Linked DNA regions of Homo sapiens: region 2 is linked to region 1. The links come from fine-mapping of genetic effects on gene expression. Tissue or cell type: visceral fat. Region 1 holds a variant in brackets; the other region holds the start of a gene. All regions are shown on one strand. Distances are from middle to middle.

Evidence for each region. PIP is the estimated chance that this variant, and not a neighbour inherited with it, causes the effect.
Region 2: SIGLEC7 starts here. The variant in region 1 is fine-mapped to the expression of SIGLEC7 in visceral fat (GTEx, PIP above 0.99).

The regions. Positions count from the first base shown.
Region 1 is chr19:51,161,155-51,166,379 of GRCh38, reverse strand. It overlaps LOC101928517 (a long non-coding RNA gene), which reads left to right. Exons shown (of 5, transcript NR_110732.1): 2 at 1,107-1,159. Among named protein-coding and RNA genes, the nearest start is that of SIGLEC7, 21 kb to the right of the region's middle. The variant C/T (reference allele first, on the strand shown) is at 2,444.
Region 2 is chr19:51,139,819-51,145,043 of GRCh38, reverse strand. SIGLEC7 (sialic acid binding Ig like lectin 7) reads right to left here and starts at 2,743. Exons shown (of 7, transcript NM_014385.4): 1 at 2,242-2,743; 2 at 360-638; 3 at 85-132. The coding sequence starts at 2,674. It overlaps LOC124904749 (a long non-coding RNA gene), which reads left to right and starts at 4,534. Exons shown (of 3, transcript XR_007067310.1): 1 at 4,534-4,620.

The sequences.
Region 1 (5,225 bases):
ATTTCAGGCTTAGTTTTTATGTTTATGACTATTTGTCTTTCGTGAGTTGCTTGTTTGGGCATTAATTGTCTTGTTGGAATTTAGTTTTTCACAGGTTTCCTAACCCTCTTGCTCCCTCTTGTTTGTCAGAAGTCTCAGACAGGCCAGGCGCTGTGGCTCAAGCCTGTAATTCCAGCACTTTGGGAGGCTGAGGCGGGTGGATCACGAGGTCAGGAGATCGAGACCATCCTGGCTAACACAGTGAAACCCTGTCTCTACTGAAAATACAAAAAAATTAGCCGGGTGTGGTGGCGGGCACCTGTAGTCCCAGCTACTCAGGAAGCTGAGGCAGGAGAATGGCATGAACCCGGGAGGCAGAGCTTGCAGTGAGCCGAGATCACACCAACGCACTCCAGCCTGGGCAACAGAGCTAGATTCTGTCTCAAAAAAAAAAAAAAAAAAAAAAAAAAAAAAAATCTCAGACAATGTGATCGTGCTGATCTCTTATGTGAGATTTGGAAATCTGCCTTCCTAGATCCTGTGGCACAGATTTGACTGTACCCAGCTATCACCTTCCTGACAAGCACACAACTAAATGTCCTGGCCCATTCTGTTTATAGATAAAAATAATTTTAGGTTCAGTGACATGATTTTCCATCTCATCTGGCAAATCCTCAAAATCCAGGGCATAATAATATTTGGTACCATATATTAGTAAAATCTTTGTAACAGTATTATCTAGGTAAATGTTCATTTGTCCTTGCTAATGTAGACAGCCATTTGCATTCTTAATATATAAGGAATTGAGTCTTTAATAAGTAACATAATACCTTGTAAGTTCTTCTAAAAATAAGAATGTAGCACATAATAGGAATGCAATAATTTGGTCTTAATAGTAAAGCAAATTATATTGTATTTATGGGTCAGAATGTTAAATATGAAGATGTGAATTTCACTGGATGTATTTAGTGAACTTTATTAGGCATAATTTACATGAAATAAAATGCACACACCTGAAATGTTCATTTCAGTGAGTTTTGATAAGTGTATGCAGCCCCGCTGTGACTGCCACAGTCAAGATACACAACACTTCTTCCACTCTAATGGTTTTCCATGTTTCTTTGCAGCTCACCATTCCCATCGCGTATGCTGGGAAATCATCAATATACCCGCTGTCATGGTGAGTTAGTTTGTCTACTTGAGAATTTCCTAGAAATATACTAAAAAATTGTGTCTGTATTCTGTCACTCAGCAATCATTTTTTGAAACTGAGCCAAGCTGTTGTATATGCCTGTAGTTCACAATGTGTTATTGCTAAGTAGTATTATCTTTTATTTACTCACCTATTGATAGACGTTTAAGATTTTCCAGGTTTTTTCTATAGGTATCCAAGTAGAAGTCTTTTTATAGACATGTTTTTATACTCATTTATACACAAGATGTGGAATTTTTAGTTCAAATAATACCTGCATATTTAATTTTTGTAGGAATTGCAGAATCGTTATCCAAATGGCTTTGACTTTTACCACTACTCCCAGCCATGCACCAGAATTCCGGTAGCTGTACACCTTTATTAACACTTGGTATTGTCAGTCTTTATATTTTAACAATTCTAGTGAGAGCGTAGTGTCATCTCTAGTGTATTTTGAATTTAGGTACCATCAATTTCATCAACTGAGTATTTCTCATATGCAATTATTTGAGGTTTGACAGATGTATGTAGCTATATACCCACAACCACAGTCAAGACACTACCAAGTGCCATTACTTAAAACATTCCCTCCTGATGTTCCTTGGTAGGCAACTGTCCCTCCCTATTTAATTCCTGTAAAAACACTAATCTATTCTCTACCCTACTGATATGCCTTTTAAAGAATGTCATATAAACGGAATCATTCAAAATGTAGCCTTTAAAATCTGGATTCATTCACTTGGTTTAATGCATTTGGGGCTCGTCCATGTGATGGGGTGTTGTTTTTAAATTGCTGACTCATACCTCACTGTTTTCATAGATCCCCATTTTGTATACATTTACTGGCTGGTGAACATTCATATTGTTTTTAGGTTTTGGTGACTGTAAAGTAAAACTAGTATAAATATTCACATGCAGATTTCTGTGTGTGGACACTAGTTTTTTTATTTCTCTTGGGTAAATACCTAGGAGTCGGGTGCTTGGTCATATGTGTAAGTTCGAATTTATAAGAAATTGCCAAACTGTTCTCCAAAGTGGGTGTACCATTTTACATTCCCACCAGCAGAATATATGAGTTCTGGTTGCTCTACGTTTTCATTAACATTTGGTATTATCCGGATTTAAAAAAAAATTTCTTTGGGTTTTGTTTTGTAGCCATTCTAATAGGTATGTACTGCTACCTCATTCTGGTTCTAATCTGTGATTTCGTAGCAGCAAATGGTGTTGAGAATGCTTTCATGTGATTATTTGCCATCAGTTTTTCTTATTTGG[C/T]GAGGAGGCTGATCAAATATTTAGTGCTTTTTAAAATTTGTGTTAAAATATACATTAAAAAATTACAATTTTAACCATTTTTCAGTGCACAGGTAAGTGGCACTAAGTACATTCACACTCTTATGCAATTATTAATCATTGATCTCCAGAAATTTCTTCATCTTGCCAAATTGAAACTCTATACCAACTAAATGATAACTTCCTATCCCATCCTGCCCCCAACCCATGGCAACCAACTTTCTACTTTCTTTGTCTATGAATTTGAGCACCTCTGGGAGATTGTGGGTAAGAACTGAGAAAAATTCTTCTTCTCCAGATCCATTTCTCTGTTCCTTTTTGTGTTTCTGCAACATGACCTCAGTTCTCTCAGGAAGCCCCAAAACCTGTGAAACTAACCTGTGCTTGCAGCTCTGCTTGCTGCCAGAAACAAAGGCTGGGAGCCAGCAACAGGAACCAGCCAGGGGATGAGTTCAGCCCAGACGTGCTGCCTGGACCTGGATTCCTGCCTCAGTGCAGGCCTTGACCTGATTTCTTGCTTCATTACCATACTAAAATCTCCACTCAGGGGCGAGAACTATGCCTTGCTAGGCACAGAAGGTGCCAAGTACAAAAGAAAACACAAGAGTGTGCACACTTCAGCCCCTCCTGAAGGAACCCACCTTTTTCCAGATCTGCCCGCCTCAGTCTCCAACTACCTGCCCTAAGGGCCCTTAAGATCCCCTTTTACCAACCCCTGGGAGAAGGTGCTTTGCACATGAACTCCCTTTCTCCATTTCTTGATCAATGAATAAAGTTTCTTCTCCGCTTTGCCGATTCTGGTCTCATTCTATTGGCGTAAGTGGCAGGGGGCAGAGAAAGGACCCACTAGGGCCAACTCACCCCTCCAAGGGTGGGTAACATTTGCAGCAAAACTCCTCAAGAGGTTGTTTGTCGTCACTCTTCCTACCTTCCTTTCTTCGGTTATTTTCCAAACGAGCTTCCAATCAAGTCCCCCACCCTTTCACACATGTTCATCAAAGCTGCCATTGCCAGTTATCTCAGACGTAAACAAAATCAACTCAATATGGATTAAAGATGGAAATGTAAGGCCTGAAACTGTAAAACTCCTTGAAGAAAACAGGAGAAAAAGCTTCTTGACATTATCTGGGCTCAGATTTTTTTAGATACTGTAAACTAAAAATAAAATCCTAAGCCCTGTAATCAACTGAACAGACCCCCTCTTGGCCAAGGGGACCCCAGAAAAATCTTAAAAACTGAGTTGCTGCTACAATGGGACGAGAGGTCAGACACACCTCATTATAGCCCCTTCCTTTTGCAGTTGAGATGCAGCAACTGATTAACCTTAATATGGAAATGGAGATCATAAGACTGGCAGAACAGACTCTGTGGCAATGAGATACCAAATCATATACAAAACCTAAGGCCATGCCAGGCAGGGGTTAAATTACACACCCCCACACTTAGAGAATAAACTATGTTCTAACTGCCACAATATGTTTATTTTTCTCTGGTAGCTAAGCAAGCACTGGTCTCAATATAAGTAATATTAAAACAATATACAGCTCACCAGCAGACACTGACCCCACACCCTTGTGACTGGACAAAAGACTGATTTCAGTAACTTTCTCTTGATAAGAACATGGAGCATGGACTGGTTATGGCAGGTTTTACAGAGGCTGCGCGCTTGAGGGCTGCTGTGTCCTCCAAAGACCTTTTGACATATAGGGCCTAATTGTAATACGTTTACATGGTAAGTCTCTACCCTAAGGTGAACATGGATTACATGTAACATGCGTGTTTGTTCAATATGCTTGGGTCAAAACCCTTTCATGAATATTCAAAGCTCCTTCTGTAACCTGTTGAATATGTATACTTGGCCAGCCCATTCAGCTTAAATTCCTGTCTTTCTCCTCCCTCCCTTAAAGTGCTTGTCTCTGAGCCTCTTCTGCAGGCTCTGCTTCCCAGCCTGTCTGGATGGCCACCTTGCAGGCTGTAATCCTTTATAAGAAATAAAGCTCTTTCTTCCAAATTGGTAATTGTGTGATGTTTAAGTTAACACCACCAAACCACAGGCAACAAAGGCAATAATAGATAAATGGAATTTCATCAAACTAAAAAGTTGTTTTAGTTTGTTTCTGCATGGCAAAAGAAACAATCACAAAAGAGTGAACAGACTACTTATGGAAAGGGAGGAGATATTTGCAAACCACACATGTGGTAAAAGGTTAATATTCAGAATATATAAGGAACTCAAACAAGTTGAGTTCAACAGCAAGAAAACAAATAATCTGATTTGAAAAGGCATGATGGACTTGAATGGCGAGTTCCCCAAAGACACAGAAATGGTCAACAGGCAGAGAAAAAATGATCAACATCACCAGTCATCAGGGAAATGCAAATCAAAACCACAATGAGACATCACCTCATACCTGTTAGGGTGACTATTATCAAAAAGATTGAAGATAACATATGTTGTCATGAAAGCACCAATGACAAATGTGTGTCCTCCTCTCTGCCTGTCTTCACCCCTTCCTTACCTCATCTGTGGTCATCACTACTCCAGCTGTGCATTGAAACATCTTCAGCTTGGACCCCTCTCCTGAACTCCAGGCATTTGCATTCAGCTGTCTCTGTTCTGTTCCCATTTGGATGTAAGGGAGATTCTCAGAATTATCGCCCCTGAAAGCCTCCCCTCTGAAGTCCTCTATGGACACCGCTCCTTCCCTCCAGGTGCTCAGGGGAACATTCTGGCTTCATCCTTGGTCTTGCCTTCCCCTCGCTG
Region 2 (5,225 bases), 21 kb after region 1:
TGAGTCCAGGATGAGGAGGGACCTGGCCCTGCCCTGAGCTGAAGGCCCTGCTCCCCCAGCCCCAGGGAGGGGGCTCCATCCTACCTGTGCCTTCTCCTTGGAAGACAGTCACAGTCAAGTTCTGAGGAGGGTCTGGGACAGAAAGACATGGAGACCTGCATCACTGTGAGGGCTGGGGACACTGGCCCTGTCTCCCCAGGAGCTGCATAAATGGGGAAGGCGGAGCCAGCGTCCTCCTGATCCCACAACCAGCCCAGATTCTGGGACCCAGCACCCAGTGTCGAGCCCTGACCCCATCCTCTGCCCTCAGGGACGTCCCCCCCTCATCAGGGACCAGGGCGTCCTGGCTCAGCACTCACAGGACACATTGAGTTGGATGGTCCTGTTCGTGGTCACGCCGGCCCCAGGCAAGGTCACCTGACAGGTGAGGCTGGTGCCGTGGTGCTGGGGCTGTGGGATGAGGGTGAGCACTGAGGAGCGGGTGGTGGAGGGGTGCAGGGGGGACACAGAGGTCCCCATCCAGGAGATCATAGGGGGCGTCCCCTGCTCACAGGCCCAGGGCACAGAGCAGGTCAGATTCTGGAAGCAGCCAGACTCCAGGGTACCGGGGATAAGGATGTTGGGCCTGTGGGTCAAGGCTGGTGAAGAGAGGGGGACTCAGGATCAGGACAGAGGATCCATGGTACAGCCCTGGGGGAAGCTCAGGCTCTGGTTCAGCTTCTGCCCTGAGCCCAACTCGCTTCACCCTCAGCCCTCTCCCAGGGCAGGGGCCCCATCCCAGGCTTTCGCTGCCACCCCCATGACCTTTCCCTGTGGTGTCTCCTGGAGCCTGTGCCTTATCTGTCACATTCACAGAGAGCTGCTTCGTTTTGTAATTCCATCTTATCTGTCCTCTCTCCACCTGGAAGTAGTAGTTCCTCAAATCCCCCTTCCTGGCATCTCTGATGCTCAGGGAGCAGTTGTTGGTCTTCAGGTCCCCAAGGAGGTGGAATCGGCCCCGTGTCTCCTGCACTTTTCCATTTGGGATGTTTGTGGCCACTGGATTATTCCATTGTATATTGATCCCTTTCTTAAACCAGCATCCATGGACAGGGCTAGAGTCAGTTCAGTTGTAATAGGGTTAAAGGACACTGCAGGGCACAGAGACGCACTAGCCCTCCTGCACCATCACCAACTCCAGCACCTCCAGCCTGTATCTTGACAGTGGGGCCTGGGACGCTGTGGGGAAATGAGGCTCAGCCCAGCCCCGACTGTCCCTCTCTTCATTTGCCCACAAGAGAGGCAGCAGCATCTCTGAGACAGAGGGTTCCTGGGCTCCTTGTGTGAGCAGAGAAGTGGGAGGGAGAGGAGGGGCAGGGCTGTGGGACCCACAGGGGGCTGGAGAGGGGCTGGAGAGGAGCTGGAGACCTCAACCCAGCACGAAAGAGAAACTACAAACCCACATGCTATAGGAACTGGTTCCCTCTGCACAGAGTGAAGGAAACCCTGAAGCTCAGAGACCCTAGAGACCCACCCAGGGAGGAGAAGAGACCGTGTCCCACCTCCTACCTCCGGGCTTCCCTGGAGCACCAGGGCCTGCACCAGACACGTAGGTCCTGCCCTCCCGGCCTCTGGACCATCGTGGAGGTCCCTCCTGTCTTTTGAGCATCTAAATGTGGATCTCCGAGGACCTCAGGGCATGAGAGATGGAGGGGCCGTGTGCTGAGTCTCCCTGTCCAGGCTCAGGTGCCTCTGCTGCCCTTGGTTTGCGCCAGGAAGTGCTTCCTCCCTGGCCTGGCCTGAGAGAGTCACGGGGTTGTGTAGACCTAAGGCTCTCAACTGGGGAGGACTTAACCCCCCAGGACGTTTAACAATGTGTGGAGATAATTGTTATTGTCTCACTGCATGGGTGGAGTGGGTGCTTCTGGCATCTGGTGGGGAGAGGCCTGGGATGGTGCTAAACCCCGGCCATGCCTAGGACAGGCCCCAAAACAAGGAGTCATAAGGCCCCACATGCCACAATGCCAGCGTCAGAGGCAGGATGAGGATGTCAGGCCTGTGGGTCAGGGCTGGTGAGGGGAGGGGCCTGCAGGATCAGGAGGGGCATCCAAGGTGCGGTCCTGGGGAAGCTCAGGCTCTGGTCCAGCTCCTCTCCTGAGTCCATCACCCCCGGCCCCCTCCCAGGACATGTGTCCCGTCTCAGCCGTGCCCTAAAGCCCTCATCACATTTGCCTTTGGCCTCTCTTGGAGCCCGTGCCTTACCTGTCACGTTCACAGAGAGCTGGTCATATTTATAATTCCATTTTATATTTCCTTTCTCCATACGAAAGAAGTATCTCCCCGCATCACTCATTCTGGCATCTCTGATGCTCAGGGTGCAATTTTTGGTCTGTGGGTCCCCAAGGAGGTGGAATCGGTCCCGAGTTTCCTCCTGCACTGCCCAAGCTGGGTTGTTTGTGGCCACTGGAGCCTTCCAGCTTATATCATTCCCTGCCCGGAACCAGTAGCCATGAACTGGGTCAGAGTCAGTCTGGCTGTCCACTGGGTAGGAGAAGGAGCAGCGCACATGGACACACATGCCCTCTTGCACGGTCACGGAACTCTGCATCGTCAGCGAGTAATCCTTCCGGTTACTCTTCTGTCCTTCCACCCTCTCCCTCCCCCAGAGCAGGGGCAGCAGCAGCAGCAGCAGCATATCTGGGGTTGGAGGTGCCAGGGCCGCGAGGGAACGTCTGTTCCTCAGGGTTCTTCTCTCAGGAACTGCGGGCTCAAGACTTAGAAGAGGCCCTACAGGAAGTCGGTGGTGAGGTCAAAACAGTGACCTCCTTAGAAGAAGAACTTCACACACAGACACTGTCAGGGCTGGGTCAGCCCTGGGAGATCCACCGTCCACCACCCGACATTCACTCCTGGGTCCCTGAGGCCAGAGCGGGAGACAGACTCACCCAGATTCCCACCCCATGCAGGGCCCACCCCACCTCCTGCCTCCCTCTCAATGCCTTTCCCTTTAGGTGATATTTTCTGCAGGGTGAAAATAACTCCCATCTGCCCAGACCCCTGAGTCACAGGCTGTGGATGTCTGCGTAGCTCAGAAGTGGGACTCGGGGCCATGAGAGACAGGGGTGCAGGTGGGGTGAACAGGCAGCCTCTCATCCCTCCCTCAGCAGCCACGAGGTGGGCACCCCCTTTCTGCACAATGAGGTCAACACAGCAGAGCCGGACACTGTCCCCAAGGAGTCACTGTGTGGTGGGGAGACACTGAGTCTCCTGACGTTTGAGCTCCCCATGACAGGAGCTTCAGTGGGGGGCACAGGCAGGGTGGGGTCACTCTCCCCTAGGTCGGGGGTTCAGTCTCAGGAGGACCGAGCAGACGGACATGGGGCTGTGAAGGTGAGGATTGCGCCTGTTGATACACGCCAAGGACACGGAGGGGAGCCCAGCCTGCAGGAGGCCGGGGAAGCTGAGGCTGTGATTGTTGTATTGTGGGGCTTGGTAGACAGGAAAGTCATAAGGGAAAGGATCAATATGAAAAGAGCAGACACTATTCCCATCCTCACAGCTCTCTGAGCACAAGGACATTTCCCTTCACCACTGCTATCTCATGAGGCCTGGTTAGTGCAGAGTGTGAGGGGTCTGCTGGCCCTGGGGCTTTGCTCCTGCAGGAACTGCTCCTAGGGGTTCAGGTGAACAGGAGACGTGGAGCAAAGACACCAGCCCCGGGGCGTCCACCCTCAGTGATGGGCGCGATTTTCTGAGAGAAGAAACACGCACCTGACTTCAACAGAAGATTATTTTAAACTGTGTGACTGGGCTGGGAGGAAGTGGGAAAAATCCTGCAAGCTGCAGCCCCCTTAGATCCAGGCCAGCTTTTCTTGAAACAGTTTTTTTTGAGCGGGGAGAAACACAAGACATGTACATAAAAGTGTCCCCTAAAAACCAACTCAGTGATTCACACAAAATAAGCACCCTTGAAGAACTAGAACACAAAAGAACTGTCAAGTCTGTCCCTTGAAATGAAGAAAGAGATTTTATTAATTCATTCACCCTTACATTCCCCTTTCCTATTGGCCATGCCCCCGCTCCCTCCTGAAGGAGCCCCTAGCCTCACTTTAATGATAATAGTCTTCCTGCTGTTCTATGTAGTTTTATCATCGGCACATGCTGCCTTGAAAATTCTAACTTCACGTAGGTTTTCCTGAAGATGTTGTATACATAGAAAATCCCAGTCTGTTTTCTTCCATACAACTGCATTGATCTGCTCAGCCCACACTGTCCCCTAATTGTCCATAACCTAGAGATCATTTGGCTGTAACGATTGAGAGAGGAAGATGCTGGGTTTGGGCGTCCGAAGCCACTCCCCGCCCTCACCTCCAATCCCTGCATTTGCAGCTAGTATCTCATCCTGCAGACCAATCTGCCTCCTGGGCGCCTCCTCCTTGCCCAGCCACTCTCTCCCCATAAGGATATTTGCAGTATCTCAGTGGGCAGAAGTGTTACCGGATGGTGCCATGCAGTTCCAGGCTCTTGGTGTCTTAAACAAAGAATTGGATGAGACACACACAGACAGCAAAGCAAGAAGCAGCAGTTTATTAAGCACAGTATCACACTCTTGGAGAGGGAGAGCGAACTGATCTCTATGAGGTGAGATCAGCATTACTTTGGGTCTTTTTATGTTTGTTTGTTTGTTTTTTTGTTTTTCTTCGCTTCCCAAGGCTGCCAAATCTCTATCCAGTGTCTGCCTTTTTTCGGGGGGAAGGGGTGGTGGTGAGGTGGGGACGAAGTCACCCAAGCTTGAGTGCAGTGGCACAATCTTGGCTCACTGCAACCTCAACCTTTTGGGTTGAAGCGATTCTTCTGCCTCTGCCTCCCTGGTAGCTGGGACTACAGGCGCCCGCCACCATGCCTGGCTAATTTTTGTATTTTTAGTAGAGATGGGGTTTCACCAGGTTGGCCAGGCTGGTCCTGAATTCCTGACCTCAAGTGATCCGCCCACCTTGGCCTCCCAAAGTGCTGGGATTACAGGCGTGAGCCACCGCGCCTGGCCAGTGCCTGCCTTTTTGATGGTTAAGTATGTTGCTTAGTTACTTTGACCCATCCCATAATTTTAAGTACATGGATAATATGCAGTCCATATGCATGAACTTTAATGAGCTGATTATCATACAGGGTCATGTTAAGGATACTTTTTCTCTCTAATGCACATGCATAGCTCTGAAGAACTGCCCCTTACTGGTTTGGTCCAGATC